Linked DNA regions of Homo sapiens: region 1 is linked to region 2. The links come from fine-mapping of genetic effects on gene expression. A gene starts in region 2. The other region holds a variant in brackets. All regions are shown on one strand. Distances are between the middles of the regions.

Region 1 (12,367 bases), 34 kb after region 2:
TCCCAGCACTTTGGGAAGCCGAGGCGGGTGGATCACTTGAGGCCAGGACTTCAAGACCAGCCTGGCCCACATGGCGAAACCCCGTCTCTATAAAAAATACAAAAATTAGCCGGGTGTGGTAGCACCTGCCTGTAGTCCCAGCTACTTGGGAGGCTGAGGCAGAGAATTGCTTGGACCCAGGAGGCGGAGGTTGCAGTGAGCAGAGATCGCACCACTGCACTCCAGCCTGGGCAACAGAGCAAGACTCTGTCTCAAAAAAAAATTAACAAAGTATATATATATAAATATATGTATTCCAGTAACAATATAAAATGTAACATACATATATGTGTAATATAGTTTAGTTAACATGTATTACAAAGAAAAGTTAATATATTAAATAATACATGTTATATATTATCTATTACAACTTATCTTTTATATATACACACACACCCACACTCTTTAGTTAATACATATATTAGGGGAATATATAGATAGACCTCTAGATAGACCTCTTTCCATATCAGAAGATGTAGATTACCTTATATTAAAAAAATTTTTTTTGAGACAGAGTTTTGCTCTTGTTGCCCAGGCTGGAGTGCAGTGGTGCAACCTCTACTCACTGCAACCTCCACCTCCCAGGTTCAAGCAATTCTCCTGCCTCATCCTCCCGAGTAGCTGGGATTACAGGTATGCGGGATTACAGGATAATTTTGTATTTTTAGTAGAGACGGGGTTTCTCTATGTTGGCCAGGCTGGTCTCGAACTCCCAACCTCAGGTGATCCACCTGCCTCGGCCTCCCAAAGTGCTGAGATTATAGACATGAGCCACCACGCCTGGCCCCATATTTTAAATTATTTAATTTTTTTTTTCCCTAGAGATGAGTTCTTGCCATGTCGTTCAGGCTGGTCTTGAACTCCTAGGCTCAAGCGATCCTGCTGCCTCAGATTCCCAAAGTGCTGGGATTACAGGCGCGAGCCACTGTACCCAGCCTCCTCATTTTTTTAAACCATTGCGTTGTAAGATCATAGTGTGCTATGATTTCAACAGATTCCTACCAATAGACATTTAGGTTATTTTCAGTACTTGCTACTACACACATTGCCACAATAAACAGCCTTGGGTGCATATATAGTATACTCGTATTTCTTTTCTTCTTAAAAATGTTTTTTGTCTTACCAAGAAGCTTGAATCTGAAGCGCATACAGTGTGCTTTTACAAACATAGTTGTAGGATTAATGCTTAGATTAGAACCACTGAATCTAAAATATGTACATTTACATTTTTAAAAAAATTACCCTCCCAAAAAAGAGTGAGCCAATTTATATCCCCACCAATAATGTATGAGAATGCCTGTTCCCCTCTACTTTAACCTTTCTTAAATGTAAAACCAATCTTACTCCATCAAATACAGGCCATCAGAGCCTACCTGGAAACAGCTATGCATATGTTCCTGTCAGATAAAGCCATTTGAATCCCAAATGAAATTCCTAAAGCTAAAAGGAGATAAGGGTGCCTAAATCTGCTGGGACCAGTCAGATGTTGAGGTTTATGCTCTGCTGGTCAAAAATTACCTTACATTTTATTAGAGTTTACATCAGTTATCACGATTTCAGCAGCTGGTCTAACTCAGACTAGCGGAGACAATAAGGAGACTCATTAGCTCACAAAACAGGACGTTTGCAACACGGTTCAGCTTCAGGGCTGGTTGATGTAGTGGCTCAAGCCGCTAAATTTCTCAAGCACCCAAAATCTTTTCTTCTCTTTCTCTGCCATTTGCGGAGGTGGCTTCATCCTTCATTCAACCATCCTAAGGTAAGATGGTTGCCAGAGCAATGGATATGATATATGATACATTTCTGTCTCATGCGTTGTGTGAGGAGACCACCAAACAGGGTTTGTGTGTGCAGCAAGGCTGTTTATTTCACCTGGGTGCAGGCGGGCTGAGTCCGAAAAGAGAGTCAGCAAAGGGTGGCGTGATTACCACTAGTTCCTTTAGGTTTTGGGATAGGCGGTGGAGTTAGGAGCAATGTTTTGCAGGCAGGGGGTGGATCTCACAAAGTACATTCTCAAGGGTGGGGAGAATTACAAAGAACCTTCTTAAGGGTGGGGGAGATTATAAAGTACATTGATCAGTTAGGGTGGGGCAGAAACAAATCACAGTGGTGGAATGTCATCAGTTAAGGCTATTTTCACTTCTTTTGTGGATCTTCAGTTGCTTCAGGCCATCTGGATGTATTCGTGCAGCACAGGAGATATGATGGCTTAGTTTGGGCTCAGAGGCCTGACAATTTCCTATTCATGCTTTCTTGTGGTTTGCTTTGCTTTTGCTTTTGCTTTTGCTTTTTTTTTTTTTTTTTTTTTTTGAGACAGAGTCTCACTCTGTCTCCCCAGGCTGGAGTGCAGTGGTGCAATCTTGGCTCACTGCCACCTCTGCCTCCCAGGTTCAGGCGATTCTCCTACTTCAGCCTCCCTAGTAGCTGGGACTACAGGCCTGCGCCACCACACCTGGCTAATTTTGTATGTTTAGTAGAGACGGGGTTTCGCCCTTTAGGCCGGGCTGGTCTCGAACTCCTGAACTCAGGTGATCCGCCTGCCTCGGCCTCCCAAAGTGCTGGGATTACAGGTGTGAGCCACTGCTCCTGGCCTTTCCTATGGTTTTCTAAGTGTGCGTGTGCATGCACACACACACGTGCACGCACACACGCACCCTCTGGCATGCATCTCCTTGGCCCAGGTGGGCCCAGATGGGCCCAGGTCTGTCCACCCTGAATATACCATGATCAGGGTAAAGTGAGTATTGCACAGTCAACTATAACATTCACTACTGTGCTTCCATTTTCAAAGACTGAAGCAGAGACTACCAGAAGTCCCGCCCCCCTCAAAGCCATTCTACCCTCTTCCTGTATCTGATTCTTCCTGCCATGTGACATCCAGAATGAAGACATTTCCTAACTTCCTGTGTTATTAGGGATGGCCATGAAAATAAGTTCTGGCCAAGCTGAAGTAGCCCATGCAACCTCTTGGAAGTGTGTGTGTGTGTGTGTGTGTGTGTGTGTGTGTGTGTAAGAGATGGAGGCTTGCTCTGTTGCCCAGGCTAGAGTATAGTGGCATGATTACAGTTCACTGCAAACTTGAACTCCTGGGCTCAAGCGATCCTCCGGCCTCAGCCTTCGAGTAGTTACGATTACAGGGGTGAGCTACAGTGTCCAGTCCAGGCAGTTTTCTTAAAGGGAGAGGGCAAACATTTATCTTTCTTTTCTCCCTCCTGCTGATAGGATGTGATATTGTGACATAATAAGAAATAGGCCGGGCATGGTGGCTCACGCCTGTAATCCCAGCACTTTAGAAGGCCAAAGTGGGCAGATCACTTTCGGCCAGGAGTTTGAGAGCAGCCTGGCCAACACAGTGAAACGCCGTCTCTACTAAAAATACAAAAGTTAGCTGGGCATGGTGGCACATGCCTGTAATTCCAGCTACTCGGGAAGCTGAGAAGGAGAATCACTTGAACCCGCGAGGCGGAGGCTGCAGTGAGCCAAGATCGCACCACTGCCCTCCAGCCTGGGTGACAGAGCGAGACTCTGTGTCAAAAAAAAAAAAAAATAGAAATATACATTTTGATCTTTGTTGCCCCTGGCTTCTGGCCAGAGCTCCTAAAACCTTTGCAGTTTCTAAAGCAAAAAATGTTAGGAGCATCTTTCGTTCTACCATTTGGTCTTTGACCCTGTCTCCTAATACGAGCGCCTAATCCTTTGGAATTTTCTGGGTGACAGGAAGACCTATTGTTCTAATGAAGCCAAACTTGGTGGGCTCTTGGATAGCTTCAGGATGGGGGCTGGTCACCAGAATGACCAAACCATGATTAGCATCCTGAAACTTTCAGCCTCACCCTCCGTCTTCTGGGTGAGGGGAAAGGGCTGGAGATTAAGTTAATAATGGATCACGCCTGCATGAAGAAGTCTCCATAAAGGCAGAGTGTGGGGACTCAGTCTGTAAACCTAGCACTTTGGGAGGCTGAGGCAGGAGGATCACTTAAGCCTCTGGAAGTTGAGGCTGCAGTGAGTCGTGATCATGCCTCTGCACTCCAGCCTGAGTAGTGACAGAGCAAGATGCTGTCTCAAAAAAAAAAAAAAAAAAAAAAAAAAAAAGGCTGGGCGCAGTGGCTCACGCCTGTAATCCCAGCACTTTGGGAGGCCAAGGCAGGCGGATCACCGGGTCAGGAGATCAAGACCATCCTGGCTAACATGGTGAAACCCCATCTCTACTAAAAATACAAAGAAATTAGCCTGGTGTGGTGGTGGGCGCCTGTAGTCCCAGCTACTCCCAGGAGGCTGAGGCAGGAGAATGGCGTGAACCCAGAAGGCGGAGCTCGCAGTGAGCCGAGACTGCACTCCAGCCTGGGTGACACAGCGAGACTCCGTCTCAAAAAAAAAAAAAAAAAGAAAGAAAAAAGAAAAGAAAAAGAAAGAAGGAAAGGCCGGGCGCAGTGGCTCACGCCTGTAATCCCAGAACTTTGGGAGGCCGAGGCGGGCGGATCACGAGGTCAGGAGATCGAGACCATCCTGGCTAACATGGATAAACCCCGTCTCTACTTAAAAAAAAATACAAAAAATTAGCCAGGCGTGGTGGCGGGCGCCTGTAGTCCCAGCTTCTTGGGAGGCTGAGGCAGGAGAATGGTGTGAACCTGGGAGACAGAGCTTGCAGTGAGCCGAGATCGTGCCACTGCACTCCAGCCTGGGCGAAAGAGCGAGACTCCGTCTCAAGAAAGAAAGAAAGAAAGAAAGAAAATCTCCATAAAAATCTCTGAACTTGCAGGCTAGTAAACGCCCACATGCTGGGGGTGTGGCGCACCCCTGCTCCCCGGGGACAGAAGCTCCTGTATTCAGACGCTTCTGCACCTTGCCCTATGTACCTGTTCATCTGGCTGGCCAGGTATATCCTCTATCACATTCTCTATAATAAACTAGTAACTGAAAATGTTTCCTTGAGTTTTGTAAGCCATCATAGCAAATTATTGGACCTAGAAAAGGGGTCATGGGAGCCTCGATTTGTAGTCAAGTCAGACAGAAGTCTGAGTAAACTAGGGACCCACTACTTGAGATTGGCAACCGAAATGGGGGGAAGTCTTGTGATACTAAGCCTGTGGGGTCTGCTCTAAGCTCACGTCATTTGTGTCATAGTTGAATTGTGGAACCCCCAGTTGATGCCTGGAGAGTTGAAGAGGGGGTTGGTGTGGGAAAAACCCCACACATCTGGTGCTGGAAGTGTTGAGTGTTATAGAGAAAACCATTTGCTAGGCTGAGAGCAGTGGCTCACGCCTGTAATTCCAGCACTTTGGGAGGCTGAGGGAGGATCCTTTGGGAAGATTGCTTGAGCCCAGGAGTTCAAGATCAGTGGTAATATAGTGACACCCTGTCTCCACAAAAATAAAAATAAAAAAAAAGCCAGGTGTGGTGGTGTGCGCCTGTGGTCCCAGCTCCTCAGGAGACTGAGGTGGGAAGATCACCTGAGCCCAGGACGTCAAGGCTGCAGTGAGCTACGATCACACCACTGCACTCCAGCCTGGGTGACACAGCAAGACCATGTCTCAAAAAATACGACCAGGCGTGGTGGCTCACACCTGTAATCCCAGCACTTTGGGAGGCCAAGGCGGGCAGATTACTTGAGGTCAGGAGTTCGAGACCAGCCTGTGCAACATGGTAAAACCCTATCTCTACTAAAAATACAAAAATTAGCCAGGCATGGTGGTGCACACCTGTAGTCCCAGCTACTTGGGAGGTTGAGGTGGGAGGATCACCTGAACCTGAGGTGGGAGGTTGACGCTGCAGTGAGCTGTGATCAGGTCACTGCACTCGTGCCTGGGTGACCTAGGGAGATCCTGACTCAAAAAATAAAATAAATTT[A/T]AAAATACAGTTTTTTTTCCCCTATACACTGAAGTACAGGTGTAATGACTGGTCCTAGAACCATCATGTTGACCCCAGCAAGCGACCCTGTGCCACTTTTGGACCCCTGTTATGGGTTGGCTTGTGTGCCCTCCAAAGAGATATGTTAAAGTCCTGCCCCTGGGCCAGGTGCGGTGGCTCACGCCTGTAATCCCAGCACTTTGGGAGGCTGAGGTGGGCGGATCATCTGAGGTCAGGAGTTCAAGACCAGCCTGGCCAAATGGTGAAACCCTGTCTCTACTAACAATAACAAAAATTAGCCTGCCATAGTACCCAGCACCTGTAATCCCAAATACTCCGGAAGCTGAGGCAGGAAAATCCCTTGAACCTGGGAGGCAGAGGCTGCAGTGAGCCGCGATCGCACCTCTGCACTCCAGCAACAGAGCAAGACTTCATCTCAAAAAATAAAATAAAATAAAAAAGTCCTGCCTCCCAGCGCCTTGGAATGGGATCTTAGGAAACAGGGTCTTTACAGAAGTAATTGAGGAGGTCAGTGGGGGTAGGCCTGACTCCAATATGATGGGAACCTTCTGAAAAGGAAGTTTGGGCACAGACACGTGTGGACACACAGGACAGATGCCATAAAGGGAGAATCCATGGGAACAGGGAGGACGGGGTGCATATGCAATCTAATGAATGCCTGGGGACACCAGAAGCTGGGAGGGGAGCAAGGAACAGTTTCTCCCCTGGAGTCTTCAGAGGGACCAGGGCCCTGCTGACACCTTCACCTCAGACTTCAGCCCCACAACTGTGAGACAATACATTTCTCTTCTTCAAATCCACCCAGGTTTTTGGTAGTTTGTTATAGCAGACCTAGGAAACTAATAAAAACCACCTACTTTTGGTTTTTGTTTGTTTGTTTTTTGAGACAGTGTTTCACTCCCATCACCCAGGGTGGAGTGCAGTGGCGTGATCTCGGCTCACTACAACTTCCACTTCCTGGGCTCAAGTGATCCTTTTGCCTCAGCCTCCTGAGTAGCCGGGACTACACGCATGCACCACCATACCCAGCTAATTTTTTTTTTTTTTAAGTAGAGACAGGGTTTCACCATATTGGCCAGCCTGGTCTCAAACTCCTGACCTCAAGTGATCCACCTGCCTTAGCCTCCCAGTGTGCTGGGATCACAGGCATGCGTCACTGTGCCCGGCCGTGTGTGCGTGCATGTGTACGTGTGCGTGCATGTGTATGTGTGTGTGTGCGACAGGGTCTCGCTGTGTCACTCAGGCTGGAATGATATGGCACAATCAGGGCTCACTGCAGCCTCAACCTCTTGGGCTCAAGCAATCCTCCAACTTCAGTCTCCTGAGTATATGGGACTACAGGTGTGCAACACCACACATGGCTAATTTTATTTATTTATTTATTTATTTATTTATTTATTTATTTAATTTTTTTTTTTTTTGAGACAGGGTCTTGCTCTGTTGCCCAGGCTGGAGTATAATAGTGTGATCTTGGCTCACTGCAGCCTTGACCTCCCGGGCTCATGTGTGTGCCACCATGCCCAGCTAATCTTTGATTTTTTGTAGGGTTTCGCTATGCTGCCCAGGCTGATCTTGAACTCCTGGGCTCAAGCTGTCCTCCTGCCACGGCCTCCCAAAGTGCTAGGATCACACGCATGAACCTCCATGCCTGGCCCGAAGCTCTTTCATGTATTGATCGTTCTGATTCATCACACTAGTATTTATCACACATGGCAACTCTCTGGCTGCTGAGAATTTGTCCTTGGTTTCTGCTTGAGAAGCACTTCATTTAGAAGTTGCTTTAGGCCTAGCATGGTGGCTGGAAGGCCCAGGAAGGTGGATCACCTGAGGTCAGGAGTTGAGACCAGCCTGGCCAACATGGTAAAACCCCAACTCTACTAAAAATAAAAAAATTAGCCGGGTGTCTTGGAGGGCACCTGTAATTCCAGCTACTCCAGAGGCTGGGGCAGGAGAATCACTTGAGCCCAGGAGGCAGAGGCTGCAGTGAGTCGAGATCGTGCCATTGCACTCCATCCTGGGCAAGAGAGCAAGACTCTGTCTCAAAAAAAAAAAAAAAAAAGAAAAAGAAAAAAATTCCTTTAAGGGCTAGGTGCAATGGCTCACTCCTGTAATCCCAGTACTTTGGGAGACCAAGGCAGACAGATTGCTTGAGCCCAGGAGTTTGAGGCCAGCCTGGGCCACACAGCAAGACCTTGTTTCTACAAAAAAAATTTTTTTAATTAGCCAGGCATGGTGCCATGCACCTGTAGTCCAGCTACTCAGGAGGGAAGATAGCTTGAGCCCAGGAGTTTGAGAGTGTAGTGAGCTGTGATTGCGTCACTGCGCTCCAGCCTGGGCAGCAGAGCATGACCCTGTCTCTTAAATAAATAAATAGAAATAGAAATAGAGTCAGGCATGGTGGCACATGCCAGCCAGTAGTCCCAGCTACCCAGGACACTGATGTTGGAGGGGGGGTATCCCTTGAGCCCTGGAATTTGAGGCCAGCCTGGGCAATATAGCAAGACCTATCTCAAAAAGATAAAAATTCAAAATAGCAGTGACTTTAGGATTTAACTTTGCAGTAGCATGATAATAAACAGTATGTGGGCACTGAAATTACACAGCAGCACGTGGTTGTGTGGTAGTGCATCATGACCAGGAATAAGATCATGATGTCTGAGGCCGGGTGCAGTGGCACACGCCTGTAATCCCAGTAACTTTGGGAGGCTGAGGTGGGTGGATCACCTGAGGTCAGGAGTTCGAGACCAGCCTGGCCAACATGGCAAAATCCTGTCTCTACTACAAATACAAAAATTAGCTGGGTGTGGTGGTGCACGCCTGTAACCCCAGCTACTTGGGAGGCTGAGGTAGGAGAATCCCTTGAACCTGGGAGGCAGAGGTCGCAGTGAGCCGAGATTGCGTCACAACACTCTAGCCTGGGAAACAGAGCGAGACGCTGTCTCAAAAAAATAAATTAAAAAAAAGATCTTAATGTCTGATTTTTCATTATCATTGAAATGAAAGCAGAAAATATAAAAATTTATCAGGGCCAGGCACAGCAGCTCACGCTTGTAATCCCAGCACTTAGGGAGGCCAAGGTGGGCAATCACTTGAGGCCAGGAATTCCAGACCAGCCTGGGCAACGTGGCAAAATCCTGTCTTTACTGAAAAAAAAAAAAAAAAAATTAGCCGGGTGTGGTGGCGTGCACCCGTGATCCCAGCTACTCAGAGGCTGAGTTGGGAGGATCACTTGGGCCTGGGAGGTCGAGGCTGCAGTCAGCCAAGAGTTCACCACTGCTCTCTAGCCTGGACAACAGAGAGACCCCCCGTCTCAAAAAAAAATAATTATGTGGAGAACTTGTGGATTTCTGAGAGACAATTTGTCTGTAAACTCTGTGTTGAGAACTATTGCTATAGCATAGCCCTATATAGTAATATAGTATAGTAGAGTTTACTGTAGGGTTGACTGTACTCAGTGTCTGGCGAGATAAGGCCAATGTTGACTATGAAATGCTCATCTCATTCTGGAAGTCTCGGACTCCTCAGAGATCACAGAAAACAGGAAAAGATGAACATGGATGCAATTCTTTGGAAAAGATTCTGCCTGTCTGTAAGGATGAGAATCAGCTAACTGGGGCCTTCCACAAAGTCCCTCAAACTGGGTGGCTTAATCAGCAGAAATGTAGAAACATATTCTCTCAGTTCTCAGTTTTGTTTTGTTTTTTTGAGACAGAGTCTCACTCTGTTGCCCAGGCTGGAGTGCAATGGCACGACCTCAGCTCACTGCAACCTTGGCCTCCTAAAGTCCTGGGATTACAGGGGTGAGCCACTGAGCCCAGCCATATTCTCTCAGCTTTCAAGGCTAGAATTCCCAGGTTGGCTCCTTCTGGGCACTCTGAGGGACGGGCTGTTCCATGCCTCTCTCACAGCTTCTGGCATTCCTTGGCTCATAGATGCATCACTCCAGTCTCTGCCTCCATCTCCACATCGCTTTCTGCCTCCATCTCTCTGTGCCAGATTTCCCTCTTCTTATAAAGACATCAGTCTTATAAAGGCGCAGTGGCTCATGCCTGCAATCCTAGCACTTTGGGAGACTGAAGTGGGAGGATCTCTTGAGCCCAGGAGTTTGAGACTCACCCAGGCAGCAAGGCAAGACTCTGTCTCTATAAAAAATTTAAAAATTAGCTGGGCATGGTGGTGCTTACCTGTGGTCTCAGATACTTGGGAGGCTGAGACGGGAGGATCACTTGAGCCCAGGAGGTAGAGGCTGCAGTGAGCGATGTTTATGTCACTGTGCTCCAGCCTGGGCAGCAAAGGGAGATCCTGTCTTAAAAAAAAAAACTGGGCTGTAAAATCGAGCTTGTGTCTGTAATCCCAGCACTTTGGGAGGCTAAGGCGGGTGATCATCTGAGGTCAGGACTTCGAGACCAGCCTGGCCAACATGGTGAAACCCTGTGCTACTAAAAATACAAAAATTAGCCGGGCATGGTGGCAGGTGCCTGTAATCCCAGCTACTAGGGAGGCTGAGGCACAAGAATTGCTTGAACCTGAGAGGCAGAGGTTGCAGTGAGCCAAGATCGCATGACTGCACTCCAGCCTGGGCAACAAGAGCAAAACTCCGTGTCAAAAAAAAAAAAAAAATTGTCAGTCACTCTTATGTCCTAACAGAATGTATTCAGTATTCAATTAAAAGACATTTTGGTTCAAAAAAATTAAAATTTAAAAAATTAGCCTGACAACATGGTCAAACTCCATCTTTACAAAAAATAAAAAAATTAGCCTGGCATGGTGGTGTACACCTGTTGTCCCAGCTACTCAGGAGTCTGAAGTGGGAGGATCTCTTGAGCCTGGGAGGTGGAGGTTGCATTGAGCCAAGATTTTGCCACTGCACTCCAGCCTGAGCAACAGAGAGAGACCCTGTCTCAAAAAAAAATTATTTTTTAATTAAAAATCAATACAAGAAATGGTTGAAAAAGGAGAAAGCTACTGACCAATATTTTAATAAACATAGATACAAAATCCTCACCAAAATACTAGCAAACTGTATCCACCAATATATAAAAAGGATTAAACAATATGATCAAATGTGATAGAATACAAGGTTGGTTCAACATCTGAAAATCAATTAATGTAATACATTGAATCAATAGAATGGACAAAAACTGCATGATAATCTCAATACGGAAAATGTATTTGACAAAACTCAATACTCCTTCTTGATAAAAATACTCAACAAACTGGGAAATGAATACCACCCATTCCTACCATAACTGATGAATATTCAGTGGATCATTTATGTTTTGTGCCTGCAGTTATTTACCTATTCCTTTGTAAAACACACTTGGTCGCAATTTCTTCTAAAGAGCACAACAAGGCCTATCTTTATCTAAACATCCTAAAAACACTCAGGAGTGAGTCATTTACACAAAGCACATTAAATATACTGGCAATTTTACTCTGAGCATCAGAATAAAGAAGGAGCTTAGAAAATTGCTTCAGTTCAGGCCGGGTGCGGTGGCTCACGCCTGTAATCCCAGCACTTTGGGAGGCCGAGGCGGGCAGATCACGAGGTCAGGAGATTGAGACCATCCTGACTAACATGGTGAAACCGCATCTCTATTAAAAACACAAAAAATTAGCTGGGCATGGTGGCAGGTGCCTGTAGTCCCAGCTACTCGGGAGGCTGAGGCAGGAGAATGGCGTGAACCTGGGAGGCAGAGCTTGCAGTGAGCCGAGATCACGCCACTGCACTCCAGCCTGGGTGACAGAGCGAGACTCCATCTCAAAAAAAAAAAAAAAAAAAAAAAGAAAGAAAATTGCTTCAGTTCATCAAAAATGAAATGCAAGTTTGCAAGTTATGATGAAGGAAGCTCAAGTAAGGGCAAAACACAGACCAAGGAGTTGGAAGGATGGCTGGGTGCAGTGGCTCTGGCCTGTAATGCCAGCACTTTGGGAGGCTGAGGCAGAAGGATTGCTTGAGCCCAGGAGTTCAAGAGCAGCCTGGGCAACAAACTGAGACCCCATGTCTACAAAAATAAAAATGAGGCTGGGCGCAGTGGCTCACGCCTGTAATCCCAGCATTTTGGGAGGTCGAGGTGGGAGGATCACAAGGTCAGGAGATCCAGACCATCCTGGCTAACACGGTGAAACCCTGTCTCTACTAAAACTACAAAAAATTAGCCGGGCGTGGTGGCGGGCACCTGTAGTCCCAGCTACTCCGGAGGCTGAGGCAGGAGAATGACGCGAACACGGGAGGCGGAGCTTGCAGTGAGCTGAGATTGCACCACTGCACTCCAGCCTGGGCGACAGAGCAAGACTCCGTCTCAAAAAATAAAAATAATAAAATAAATAAATAAATAAAATAAAAATGAAAAAATTAGCCATGCATGGCAGCATGTGCCTTTAGCCCCAGCTCCTTGGGAGGCCGGGCAGGAGGATAGCGAGAGCCCAGGTGTTCGAGGCTATAGTGAGCTATGATCAC
Region 2 (12,367 bases):
CAACAAGAGCGACACTCCATCTCAAAAAATAATTATAACAATAACATGGTGCCCAGGTGTGGTGGATCACACCGGTAATCCCAACAGTCTGGGTGGGAGGATCTCTTGAGGCCAAGAGTTCCAAAAAAAAATTTGCTGGGCCAGGCGCAGTGGCTCATGCCTGTAATCCCAGCACTCTGGAAGGCTGAGGCAGGCAGATCACCTGAGGGTCAGGAGTTAGATCAGCCTGGCCAACATGGTGAAACCCCGTCTCTACTAAAAATACAAAAATTAGCCAGGTGTGGTGGCATGTGCCTGTAATCCCAGCTACTTGGAGGCTGAGGCAGGAGAATCGCTTGAACCTGGGAGACGGAGGTTGCAGTGAGCTGGGATTGCTCCATTGCACTCCAGCCTGGGGGACAAAAACAAGATTTTGTCTTAAAAACAAAACAAAACAAAACAAAACTTACTGTGTGTGGTGGTACACACCTCCTAGCTACTTGGGAGGCTGAGGCAGGAGGACGGCTTGAGTCCAGGAGTCCAAGGCTATAGTGAGTTATAATTGTGCCACTGCACTCCAGCCTGGTGACCGAGTGAGACTCTGTCTCTAAAAAACAAAAGCAATTTTTTAAAAAGGCATAAAATTATTCTGCCTTTTTTTTTTTTTTTTTTTTGAAACGGAGTCTCGCTCTGTCGCCCAGGCTGGAGTGCAGTGGCGAGATCTCCGCTCACTGCAAGCTCCACCTCCTGGGTTCACACCATTCTCCTGCCTCAGCCTCCTGAGTAGCTGGGACTACAGGCACCCGCCACCAAGCCTGGCTAATTTTTTGTATTTTTAGTAGAGACGGGGTTTCACTGCGTTAGCCAGGATGGTCTCAATCTCCTGACCTCGTGATCCACCCACCTCGGCCTCCCAAGGTGCTGGGATTACAGGTGTGAGCTACCGCGCCCGGCCAAATTATTCTGTATTTTTAAATATTTCAACAAATACATATTTTAAGGACTACAGCCTAGAAAGTCTTCAATGTCCTGCCTCCTCCTTCCTTCTCCCTAGGATGTTTTTCTCTCTGGGCTCTACATTCCTTCACTTCCTTTCTGTCTCTACTCGAAAGTCACATTCCCAGCTAGGTCTCCTCTTGCTGCCCTATGTAAAATTTCCATTCTTCTAACTCTTACCCCTAGTACTTTATACTTTCCCTTCTCTGATTGTTTTTTCTTTGCCATGTGTCACCTAACATACAATAAATTTACTTTTTGTTTATTGTCTGCCTTCTCTACTTGAAGGGAAGTTCCAAGAGAATAACAGGGATTTCTGTCTTTTATTCACTGTTGTATCACCATCATCTAGAACAGCACCTGGCACACGGTACATGCTCAATAAATATTTGTTGCCTGAATACCAAATGAGATCTAATTACAGCCCACAGATAGGTATACCATAGCTCATCAAGCTGCCTTTAGGGATGCTGTCACAGTTCAAAAATACTGCAAAAGAGAACTATAGATTTGCCATAATAAACAACACTGTCTACTCTTCATATCAAAGAAAAACACACTTGACCTTCCATCTCATTTCTACAAGAAAAGGAAAGAAATTGATTATTTGGATAGTGGGGCTGGGCACGGTGGCTCATGCCTGTAATCCCAGCACTTTGGGAGGCCAAGTTAGGAGGATTGTTTGAGCCTAGGAGTTCAAGACCAGCTTGGGAAACATAGCAAGACCTCATCTCTACAGGAAAAAAAATTTTTTTAATTAGCCAGGCATGATAGCATGCACCTGTAGTCCTAGCTACTCAGGAGGCTGAAGTGGGAGGACTGCTTGAGCCCAGGAGGGAGTTCAAGGCTGTAGTGAACTACGATTGTGCCACTGCACTCCAGCCTGCGTGACAGAGCGAGACCCTGTGTCTAAAAAAATAAAATAAAATAAAAATACTGCAAAGGAGAACTACAGGCTTGCTATGACTAATAAACATTGTCTACTCTTCATATCAGAGAAAAACACATTTGACCTCTCAGAGAAGAAAGAAGCTGATTATTTGGATAGTGAAAAGTCATACAAAGTGAAAGTCTCGATTTAGTTAATATATAGACAAAATTCTCTTGTAATGTTAACAAATATTAAACCCTCTCCCTGTGACTTTACTATACTACCTTCTGTTTTTTCCTTTGGTTTGACTTCTATAAAATCAATCTGACATTTATGAACCTTATATTTTCAATTAACCAAGAAACAGATGGGCACGGTGGCTCACACCTGTAATCCCAACACTTTGGGAGGCCAAAGCAGGTGGATCACTTGAATTCAAGAGTTGGAGACCAGCCTGGCCAACATGGTGAAACCCCAGCTCTAGTAAAAATACAAACATTAGCCAGGCATGTGACAGATTCCTGTTGTCCCAGCTACTTGGGAGGCTGAGGTGGGAGAATCACTTGAACCAGGAGGCAAAGGTTGCAGTGAACCAAAATTGCACCACTACACTCTAGCCTGGGCAACAGAGTGAGACTCTGTCTCAAAAAAAAAAAAATTAATTAAAAAAAAATAAGAAACGTTTACTGAGTACATGGAACTCCACAGAATTCTGCAAGGGTCCCGAAATGTGAAGACCCTGGCCTTGATATATCTATTCAAGGAAGACCAGAAATCTACCTGTAAGTAATAACGAAGAACCAGGTGCCCAGTATGTGAAAGGTTCAAAGGTGCCTACCTTTGTATGGGCCATAAGAGAATCAACTCATCTCTTATACACCATCCACTGGCTTTCGAATCCCAGCAGACAGCACTTAAAAAGCAAGAATCGGCCGGGCACAGTGGCTCATGCCTGTAATCCCAGCACTTTGGGAGGCCGAGGTGAGAGGATCACTTGAGGTCAGGAGTTCGAGACCAGCCTGGCCAACATCGTGAAACCCTGTCTCTACTAAAAATACAAAAACTAGCCCGGTGCCGTGGTGTGTGCCTGTAATCCCAGCTACTCGGGAGGCTGAGGCAGGAGAATTGCTTGAGCCTGGGAAGCGGAGGTTGCACCACTGCACTCCAGCCTGGGCAACAGAGCGAGATGCGAGACTCTGTCTCAAAAAAAAAAAAAAAAAAAAGCAAGAATCAAACATGACTGAGTTAGTTCATGTCCCTTATGAGTCACATGGGATGTGACAGAGTGAATTTTAGCCACTAGGTAAAAAAAATTTTTTTTAAGATAAGGACATCAGGCCAGGCGTGGTGGCTCACACCTATAATCCCAGCACTTTGGGAGGCTGAGGCAGGCGGATCACCTGAGGTCAGGTGTGATCAGCCTGGCTGGCCAACGTGATGAAACTCCATCTCTACTAAAAAAATACAAAAAATTAGCCAGGCATGGTGGCAGGCACCTAAAATCCCAGCTACTCGGGAAGCTGAGGCAGGAGAATCGCTTGAACCCAGTAGGCAGAGGTTGCAGTGAGCCGAGATCACTCCATTGCACTCCAGCCTAGGCAACAAGAGTGAAATTCCATGTCAAAAAAAAAAAAAGAGATAAGGATATCAGATTCTAAACTCCTCAATAGGACAGAAACCAGATTAGCTTATGTCATGCTGAAGTGCAAGCTGGAGCTGAAGCAATGATTGAAAAAATAGGGAAGGGCAAAATCTTGATCTTCAGGCAAAATACCTACCCAGGGTCCCACCCGGTTTCAGTTTTCCCCTTTGAACTAGGTCTAGTGGGAAGATGTACTTAACTGCTTTCTCTGAACCTTAAAAATCGGGCACAAGCCTTTGGCCAAGCAATTACCCACTTCAACTTTGCTTTAATGTAGACCAGCCTTGGGGCCAGGTGCGGTAGTTCACACCTGTAATCCCAGCACTTTGGGAGCCCAAAGCAGGTGGATGACTTGAGCCCAGGAGTTCGAAATCAGCCTGGGCAACGTGGTGAAACCCCATCTCTACCACAGATACAAAAATTAGCCGGGCGTGGTGGCGGGCACCTGTAATTCCAGTACTCAGGAGGCTGAGGCACGAGAATCGCTTAAACCTGGGAGGCCGAGATTGCAGTGAGCTGAGATCACGCCACTGCACTCTGGCCGGGGGGACAGATTGAGGCTCCCTCTCATTGATTGATTGATTGATTGATGGATGGATAGACAGACAGACAGACTAGCCTTGCTTTTTGCCACAGATTCCCTATACTAATCGAATAACTAAGCACCTGAAGTCAGAATACCTGAGTTCACATGCTGGTAAAAGGTATTCTGACTTCAGGTGCTTAGCTGTATAACCCTGGTCAAGTTACTTGACCTTTCTATGACCCTCCTGCCGAATGCACATGACGACAGCACGCTCACTGGGTTAGGGTTGATTAAATGAAATAAAACACATAAAAAGCTAGCCCAGAGCCTGGCCACAAGATGCCTTCAATAAATGTTCATTGTTATAATTTACAGAGAAAAAAAGGCCCCAAGTCTGAGAAGCGACATGCCTGGGGATTCTTGCTAAAGGTTATCATTAAATCTAAAAGTCAAACAAACACATTCCTGACTCTGGGATACTCTCCTGATTCGTGGATACCATCGCTAACAGTAGTGACACAAATCAAATAATAAGAACAGCCAGAATCATAACCCTAATGACAGCAGTGGCCACAGCACTTAATACTTATAGAGCTGCTAGGGGCCACTGTCCTAAAAGAGGAAGAAGGCCAGGCTGCTGAATCACACACACACAATTACAGAATCTTCTCCACCCTTTGTTTTAAAAAACAGTTCACTGGCGCCCAAGTTTTGCTAAAAACAGGTATCTAAACCGATGACGGACAACGTGTAATTTCTTCATACCAAAGAGGTGGGGCTGTGCAGGGAGGAGGGGGTGGCGCTCGGCTCCTGCCAGATGGAAAAGCCACATGAAGTGGAGAAACAGCCGGATTCAGGATTCACCCCCGAATCAAAACCCGATTTTTGAAAGGCAGGACCTTCCAATTCGGGCAATCGCTAGGTTCTGCTTGTAAAATAACCTCTGAACAAGTGTCATCTGCCTTCCGCGCCAATCCCCTGCCGCGGTAGAAGGTTCGGATTACCGGGCAGCGGTGTGATTTCGGAAACCCGAGAGCGATCTGGCCACCTCCAGCCTTCCCCGGTCTCCGAGAATCACAGCCCCACTTGAGAGGAAAACAAAAGCCGGGGCAGCGGGGGAGGCCGGGCCAGGGTGCCCTCCATGCCGGATCGCGGGCGCCGGGCACCCGGGGCCTGAGGAATGCTCAGGTGACAGGCGCGGCGCCCGGGGCAACAGGTCCCGCCCGGCTTCGGCCTCCCGGGGTCCGGCCGATCCCACATCCGCCCCGGGGCCCAGGAGAGGGAGCGGGGCGCCAGGGAGAGAGCGGCGCCTGGGGCGGCGCAGGGGCAAGGAGTCCAAGCTCCATCTTGAGGCGGGCGGAGGAAGCGAAGGCCCGGCTCGGCGCTGACAGGGCCGCCACTTTTCCAGCTCCGGAGGAGCCCCCCAGGGACCCCCGGCCTCCGGCGCCGGCCACCCGAGACTCCCGCGGTCCCCTCCCGGACGGCTCCGGCGCGCGAGGCTCGGCCCCGCTCCCGGACGCCGGGCTTCGACCCCCGACCCGACCCTGGGCGGGCCCCGCAGGCCGGGAAGCCGGCAGGGGAGCAGGGGGTGCCGGGAAAGGGAGAGGGCCCGCGCCGCCCCCTGCTCACCTCCTCGGACGCCGCCGGTCGCCGCCACCTGTCCCACTGCAGCAGCAGCAGCCGCCGCGGCCGCCGCCTCCCGCCTCCCGGCTCGTCGGCTCGGGGCGGGGGAGAGCGTGACGCGCCGCCGCCGCCGCGGGGCCGGGCGGGCGCGCGCTGCCAGGAGAAGACGCCGCGCGGCTCCTCCCAGCGCTCCGCCGCCGCGCCCGCCCGGCCGGCCCGGCCGGCCCGGCCCCTCGAGTCCGCACCGGCCCTGCGGCCCGCGCCCGGCCCCGCGCCGCCCCGCCGCCTCTTTGTCTGCGCCCACCGCGGCCCCGGGAGGACCCTGGCCCCGGCGCGCCCGCCGCTCCGCCCTCGAACCCTCCCGAGCCCCGGCTTGGGGAGCAAGGTGCGAGGGAAAACCCACAGGCCTGCTCCGAGGGGCTTCTCGTCATTTCTGCAAAGTGTTCCCAGAATTTGCAAGTCACACCCAAGAGCCCCATTCAGCCTCGACCTCAGCCCGCTCTTTGGGGCTGATTCATTTGTTTGCCCTCCCCTTCCCGCCAGACAAGGGTGAGAAATCCTTTGAAACAGGCTGCAAGGCGCTTCCGAAGCAGGTTAAGTTGGGGATTGGGAAGGATCATCTCTGCCCTCGCCTCCCTCCAGGGAAAGACCCTGGATGAGGCGTCCCTGGAGAAAATGCTGAAAGGAACTGTAGAGCAGGTTAAGCTTGGGAAGAACTGTATCTGCTCCCCACTTCCCTCCGGGAACGACCGCGGGTTAAAAATCCTTTGAAACGATCCCAGGGTTTGCTCCGTTCGTTTGAGAAAAGCCCCTTTTATTCGCCCTGGCTGCTTGGACGGAAGCCCTGGTTAGTGTCCCATCCTCCTTCCCCCCTGGGATTTCCTTTAAAAGCTTTTGAAAGGGACAGGAGGGAAGGCTGCAACAGCCTGCTCGGGGCTGGGGTAGCAGAGGGCGGCCAGCATTTCACTCCCATGGACCATGGCAACCCCAGAAGCCTTACATCTCCAGGGAGGAATTTGCAGCTGTCGGGGAAGCCCAGGATTTTGTGGTGGATAAGGGGGCAGGGGCTTCCTCCTCCTTGCCAGTAGAAGAGAATAATCGGCGGGTGACCCCTCTAGCTGACCTTTATTCAAAGCACCGTGCTGCCTGGACCAGCAGGAAGAGGGAACTGCTCTGGTAATGCACGAAGTTCTGAACTATGTAAATTTGTCTCCTGGCCCCTCCTCTCCATTCATGTCTGAAATCCCTCGAAATGCTGTTACCTAATTCAACATCGCCCTAATTTACAGGCTGCAAGGTCAGGTGGTGGTGGTACTCCTGAAATCCCATATCCATATTCCTAATCTGAAAGGCGCGCCTCACCCCCTAATCTAAACAGTCTTCAGCTGTAATCAGCAAGCTGTGGAATCATAGATGTCATAGGATGAGGCACAGACCACTTCTAATGGGGGAGTTCAGCTAGGAACACTTATGGGCTTGTCTTTTCTTCTCTACTCAGTAGGCTGAGCCTGTCTTTATTAAAAATATTGTTTTGGGGCTGGGTGTGGTGGCTCACGCCTGTAATTCTAGCACTTTGAGAGACCCAGGTGGGTGGATCACCTGCAGACAGGAGTTCAAGACCAGCTTGGCCAACATGGTGAAACCCCGTCTCTAACAAAAAATACAAAAATTAACTGGGCATGGTGGTGCATGCCTGTAGTCCCAGCTACTCGGGAGGCTGAGACACGAGAATTGTTTGAACCCGGGAGGCGGAGGTTGCTGTGACCAGAGTTCAAGCCACTACACTCCAGCCTGGGTGCCGGAGGGAGACTCTGTCTCAAAAAATATATATATATATACACATGTATATATATATGTATATATATGTGTGTGTGTGTGTGTGTGTATATTTGCTTGTTCTCATGGGTTATTCTATGTCATTGTCATGTTCATCATTTGCTTATTTATTTATAATTATATCATTTTGTTCATCATGGAGTCTTGGCGTTAATTTTTTTTTTTTTTTTTTTTTTTGAGATGGAGTCTCACTCTGTCGCCCAGGCTGGAGTGCAGTGGTGCGATCTCGGCTCACCGCAAGCTCTGCCTCCCGGGTTCACGCCATTCTCCTGCCTCAGCCTCCCGAGTAGCTGGGACTACAGGTGCCCGCCACCACGCCCGGCTAATTTTTTGTATTTTTTTAGTACAGACAGGGTTTCACCGTGTTAGCCAGGATGGTCTCGATCTCCTGACCTCGTGATCCGCCTGCTTTGGGCTCCCAAAGTGCTGGGATTACAGACGTGAGCCACCGTGCCCGGCCATTAATTTTTATTTTTTAAAAAATATATCAGCCGGGCACAGCGGGCTGATCACGAGGTCAGGAGCTCGAGACCAGCCTGGCCAATATAGTGAAACCCCGTATCTACTAAAAATACAAAAATTAGCCGGGCATGGTGGCGCATGCCTGTAATCCCAGCTACTAGAGAGGCTGAGGCAGAAGAATTGCTTGAACCCAGGAGGCGGAGGTTGCAATAAGCCAAGATAGCACCACCGCACTGCAGCCTGGGCGACAGAGGGAGACTCTATCTCCAAAAAAAAAAAAAAAAAAAATTAGCATATCGCAATATTGTTTACCTTCACTGCCTCCTTCAATTGTGTGAGCAAGGCCTGGTCTCAGCCCTACTACCAGGGCATTGACAGGGCTCAGACCCCAGGTGGCCACTGTTAGGACTCAAAGTTCCTCCTTCAATATTTACATTCTGTTTTTAGATCTAGCCACTGTGCTTTTTTTTTTTTTTTTTTTTTAAGACTGAGTCTCGCTCTGTCGCCCAGTCTGGAGTGCAGTGGCACCATCTCGGCTCACTTCAACCTCCGCCTTGCAGGGCCAAGCTATTCTCCTGCCTCAGCCTTCCAAGTAGCTGGGACTACAGGCACGTACCACCATACCCAGCTAATTTTTTGTATTTTGGGTAGAGAGGGGGTTTCTCTGTGTTATCCAGGATGGTCTCAATCTCCTGACCTCGTGATCCGCCCACCTCGGCCTCCCAAAGTGCTAGGATTACAGGCATGAGCCACCGCGCCCGACTGCCACAGTGCTTTCTTAAATGCATGTCTTCTGTAAATATGAGAACAGCTCAATTGATGAGACATTGGGAGGTGGAAGGGATGTTGCAGAAGTAGAATGCAAAATAAGAGCTCTCAAGTCTTCATTTTACAAAGCGGGGAGGTAGGTAAATACCTAGGGTTTTGTTTTCTGTTTTTTTTTCCCCAAAAAATTAAGGTTTAATGATATCATTAACGTAACCAATAGGAATAATTAAAAATAGTGGCAGGATTGTGTGGAGAGGAGAGGTAGTCGTGCCTTAGTCATAACAGAAAGTCAATAGATAATGCCTACAGTTGATAAATAACACAAGTATATTTTTATGTATTTTTGTTTTTGTTTTCTTGAGATGAGGTCTCATTCCTGTCACCCAGGCTGGAGCGCAGTGCTGCAATCATGACTCCCTGCAGCCTCTACTTCCCGGGATCAGATGATCCTCCCACCTCAGCCTCCTAAGTAGCTGGGACTACAGGCATGCACAGCCATGCCCAGCTAATTGTTTGTATTTTTAGTAGAGATGGAGTTTTGCCATGTTGCCCAGGCTGGTCTCAAACTCCTGGGCTCAGGCAACCTGTCCCCCTCAGCCTCCCAAAGTGCTGGGATTACAGGCGTGAGCCACCGTGCCTGGCCCACAACAATATTTTTAGAGAGATGGAAGTTAACACCAGAAGAACTAAAAGCAAAAAATTAATAGTCTCTGGGGAACAGGGTTAAGACTAGGTAGGAGTGAGGTAGAAGAACTGAGAACTGTTGCTTTTCTTTTCTTTTGTTCTTTTGTTTTTTTGTTTTTGTTTGTTGTTGTTGTTTTGTTTTGTTTTGTTTTGTTTTGAGACAGGGTCTTGCTCTGTTGCCCAGACTAGAGTGCAGTGGTGCAATCATAGCTCACTACAACCTGGAGCTCCTGGGCTCGAGTGATCCTCCTACCTCAGCCTCCAGACTGGTTCAGACTACAGGCACGTGCCACCATGCCCAGCTAATTTTTTTTAATTTTTAGTAGAGCCAGAGTCTGTCTATGTTGCCCAGGTCTCAAAATCCTGGGCTCAAGCAATCCTCCCATCTTGGCCTCCCAAAGTGCTGGGATTACTGGCATGAGCCACCATGCCCAGACTGCTTTTAATTATAAACCTGAATGTATTTTATTTTTTAAAACCATGTGCAAGGCCAGGAGCAGTGGCTCACACCTATAATCCCAGCAATATGGGAGGCCAAGGTGGGAGGACTGCTTGAGCTGAGGAGTTGGAGACCCACCTGGGCAACATAGCAAGGCCCCATCTCTACCAAAAAAAAAATATAAAAAATTGGCCGGGCACAGTGACTCACACCTATAATCCCAGCACTTTGGGAGGCCGAGGCAGGTGGATTGCCTGAGCTCAGGAGTTTGAGACCAGCCTGGCCAACATGGCGAAACCCAGTCTCTACTAAAAATACAAAAATTAGCCAGCTATGGTGGCATGCACCTGTGGTTCCAGCTACTCAGGAGGCTGAGGGAGGAGAATCAGTTGAACCTAGAAGGCGGAGGTTGCATTGAGCTTGCGCCGCTGCACTCCAGCCTGGGCAATAGAGCGAGACTCCATCTCAATAAATAAATAAATAAATAAATAAATAAATAAATAAATAAGCAAGCTGGGTGTGGTGGTGTGCACCTGTAGTCCTAGCTACTCAGGAGGTAGAGGTGGGAGGATGGCTTGAGCCCAAGAAGTTGAGGCTGCAGTGAGCCGTGTTCCAGCCACTGCACTCCATCCAGGCTGGGTGACAGAGCAAAGCCCCATCTCAAACAAACAAAAAAACATTACTTTCATTTATTTGTTGTTGTTGTTGTTGTTGTTTTTAAACATGGAGATGAGGTCTCACTATGTTGCCAAGACTGATCTCTCCTTGGCTCAAAGGATCTTTCCGCCTTGGCCTCCCAAAATGTTGGGATCCCAGGTGTGAGCCACCACACCCAGCTCATTTTTTTTTTTTTGAGATGGAGTCGCGCTGTCACCAGGCTGGAGTGCGATGGCGCAATTTCAGCTCACTGCAACCTGCGGCTCCCAGGTTCAAGTGATTCTCCTGCCTCAGCCTCCTGAGTAACTGGGACTACAGTCACGCGCCACCACGCCCAGCTAATTTTTGTATTTTCAGTAGAGATACTGTCTCTATTTTCAATAGAGACAGTGTTTTGCCATGTTGGCCAGGCTGATCTCCTGACCTCAAGTGATCCATCCACCTTGGCCTCCCAAAGTGCTGGGATTACAGGTGTCAGCCACTGCACCCAGCCCCAATTTCTTTAAAAAAAGAACAAAAGAAGAAGAAGAAGGAATTAAGATCCTCAACCAAAATGAGTAGAGATTATTCTCCGTAAAATCATGGGTGTTGGTGGTTTTTTTCTCCCCAGCTCTTTAGCATTGATTCTGTGACAGGTTTCGGCAGTACAACAGGTTTGTTTTGTTTTATTATCTGTTTCCTTCCATCCCTACAAGAACGTGAATTTCCAGAGAGTGGGGAATTTTTTTTTTTTTTTGAGAATGAGTCTCTGTCGCTCAGGCTGGAGTGCAGTGGTGCAATCTTGGCTCACTGCAACCTCCGCCTCCTGGATTCAAGTGATTCTCCTGCCTCAGCCTCCCGAGTAGCTGGGATTACAGGCACCCACCACCATGCCCAGCTAATTTTTGTATTTTTAGTAGAGACGGGGTTTCACCATATTGGCCAGGCTGGTCTTGAACTCCTGACCTGTGATCCGCCTGTCTCAGCCTCCCAAAGTGCTGGGATTACAGGCGTGAGCCACTGGGCCCAGCGAGAGCAGGGATTGTTGACTCTTATTTCTTGCTGTGTCTGCATCCCTTGGATGCAGGGTCCACAGTAGATTAGCTTTTTGAAGGATGTGGTGTAAGACTCCTATATTCTAAATAACTAGAGACTTTTTTCCTTGTATTTTGTCTTCTTTTTTTTTAAAGAACAATAGGTGTTCATTACATAAAATTAAGGCAAGCAAAATGAAGGCAACAAAATAGCTACAATCCCACAGATCCTGAAAAAATTACTAATAAATATGTCTAAATTAATTCATTACAGTTTAGAGAGATTTTAAATCTCTCGCTAAGGGACTAATAGTTCTTATCACCATTCAAGGACAATACAGTAAAAAATAGTGGTTTGAAAATATTTCTTGTTTTGTTTTGTTTTGTTTTGTTTGAGACTGAGTTTCGCTCTTGTTGCCCAGGCTGGAGTGCAGTGGCATGATCTCGGCTCACTGCAACCTCCATCTCCCGGATTCAAGCGATTCTCCTGCCTCAGCCTCCCGAGTAGCTGGGATTACAGGCATGTGCCACAACGCCCAGCTAATTTTTTTTGTATTTTTAGTAGAGATGGGGTTTCACCATATTGGTCAGGCTGGTCTCAAACTCCTGACCTCAGATAATCTGCCCACCTCGGCCTCCCAAAGTGCTGGGATTACAGGTGTGAGCCACTGCACCCAGCCAAAAATATTTCATAAACTGCGCCTGTGATCCCAGCATTTAGGGAGGCCAAGGTGGGTGGATCACCTGAGGTCAGGTGTTCAAGACCAGCCTGGCCAACATGGTGAAACTCTATCTCTAAAAACACAAAACTTAGCCGGGCGTGGTGGTGGTGCATGCCTGTAATCCCAGCTACTTGGGAGGCTGAGGCGGA

The links. PIP is the estimated chance that this variant, and not a neighbour inherited with it, causes the effect.
Region 1: its variant is fine-mapped to the expression of CLIP1 in whole blood (TOPMed, PIP above 0.99).

The regions. Positions count from the first base shown.
Region 1 is chr12:122,451,220-122,463,586 of GRCh38, forward strand. No RefSeq gene overlaps it. Among named protein-coding and RNA genes, the nearest start is that of CLIP1, 35 kb to the left of the region's middle. RefSeq lists enhancers at 6,762-6,811, 6,842-6,901, 6,922-6,971. The variant A/T (reference allele first, on the strand shown) is at 5,887.
Region 2 is chr12:122,416,878-122,429,244 of GRCh38, forward strand. It overlaps CLIP1 (CAP-Gly domain containing linker protein 1), which reads right to left and starts at 5,792. Exons shown (of 26, transcript NM_001247997.2): 1 at 5,644-5,792. RefSeq lists silencers at 5,089-5,488, 5,509-5,858 and an enhancer at 6,968-7,067.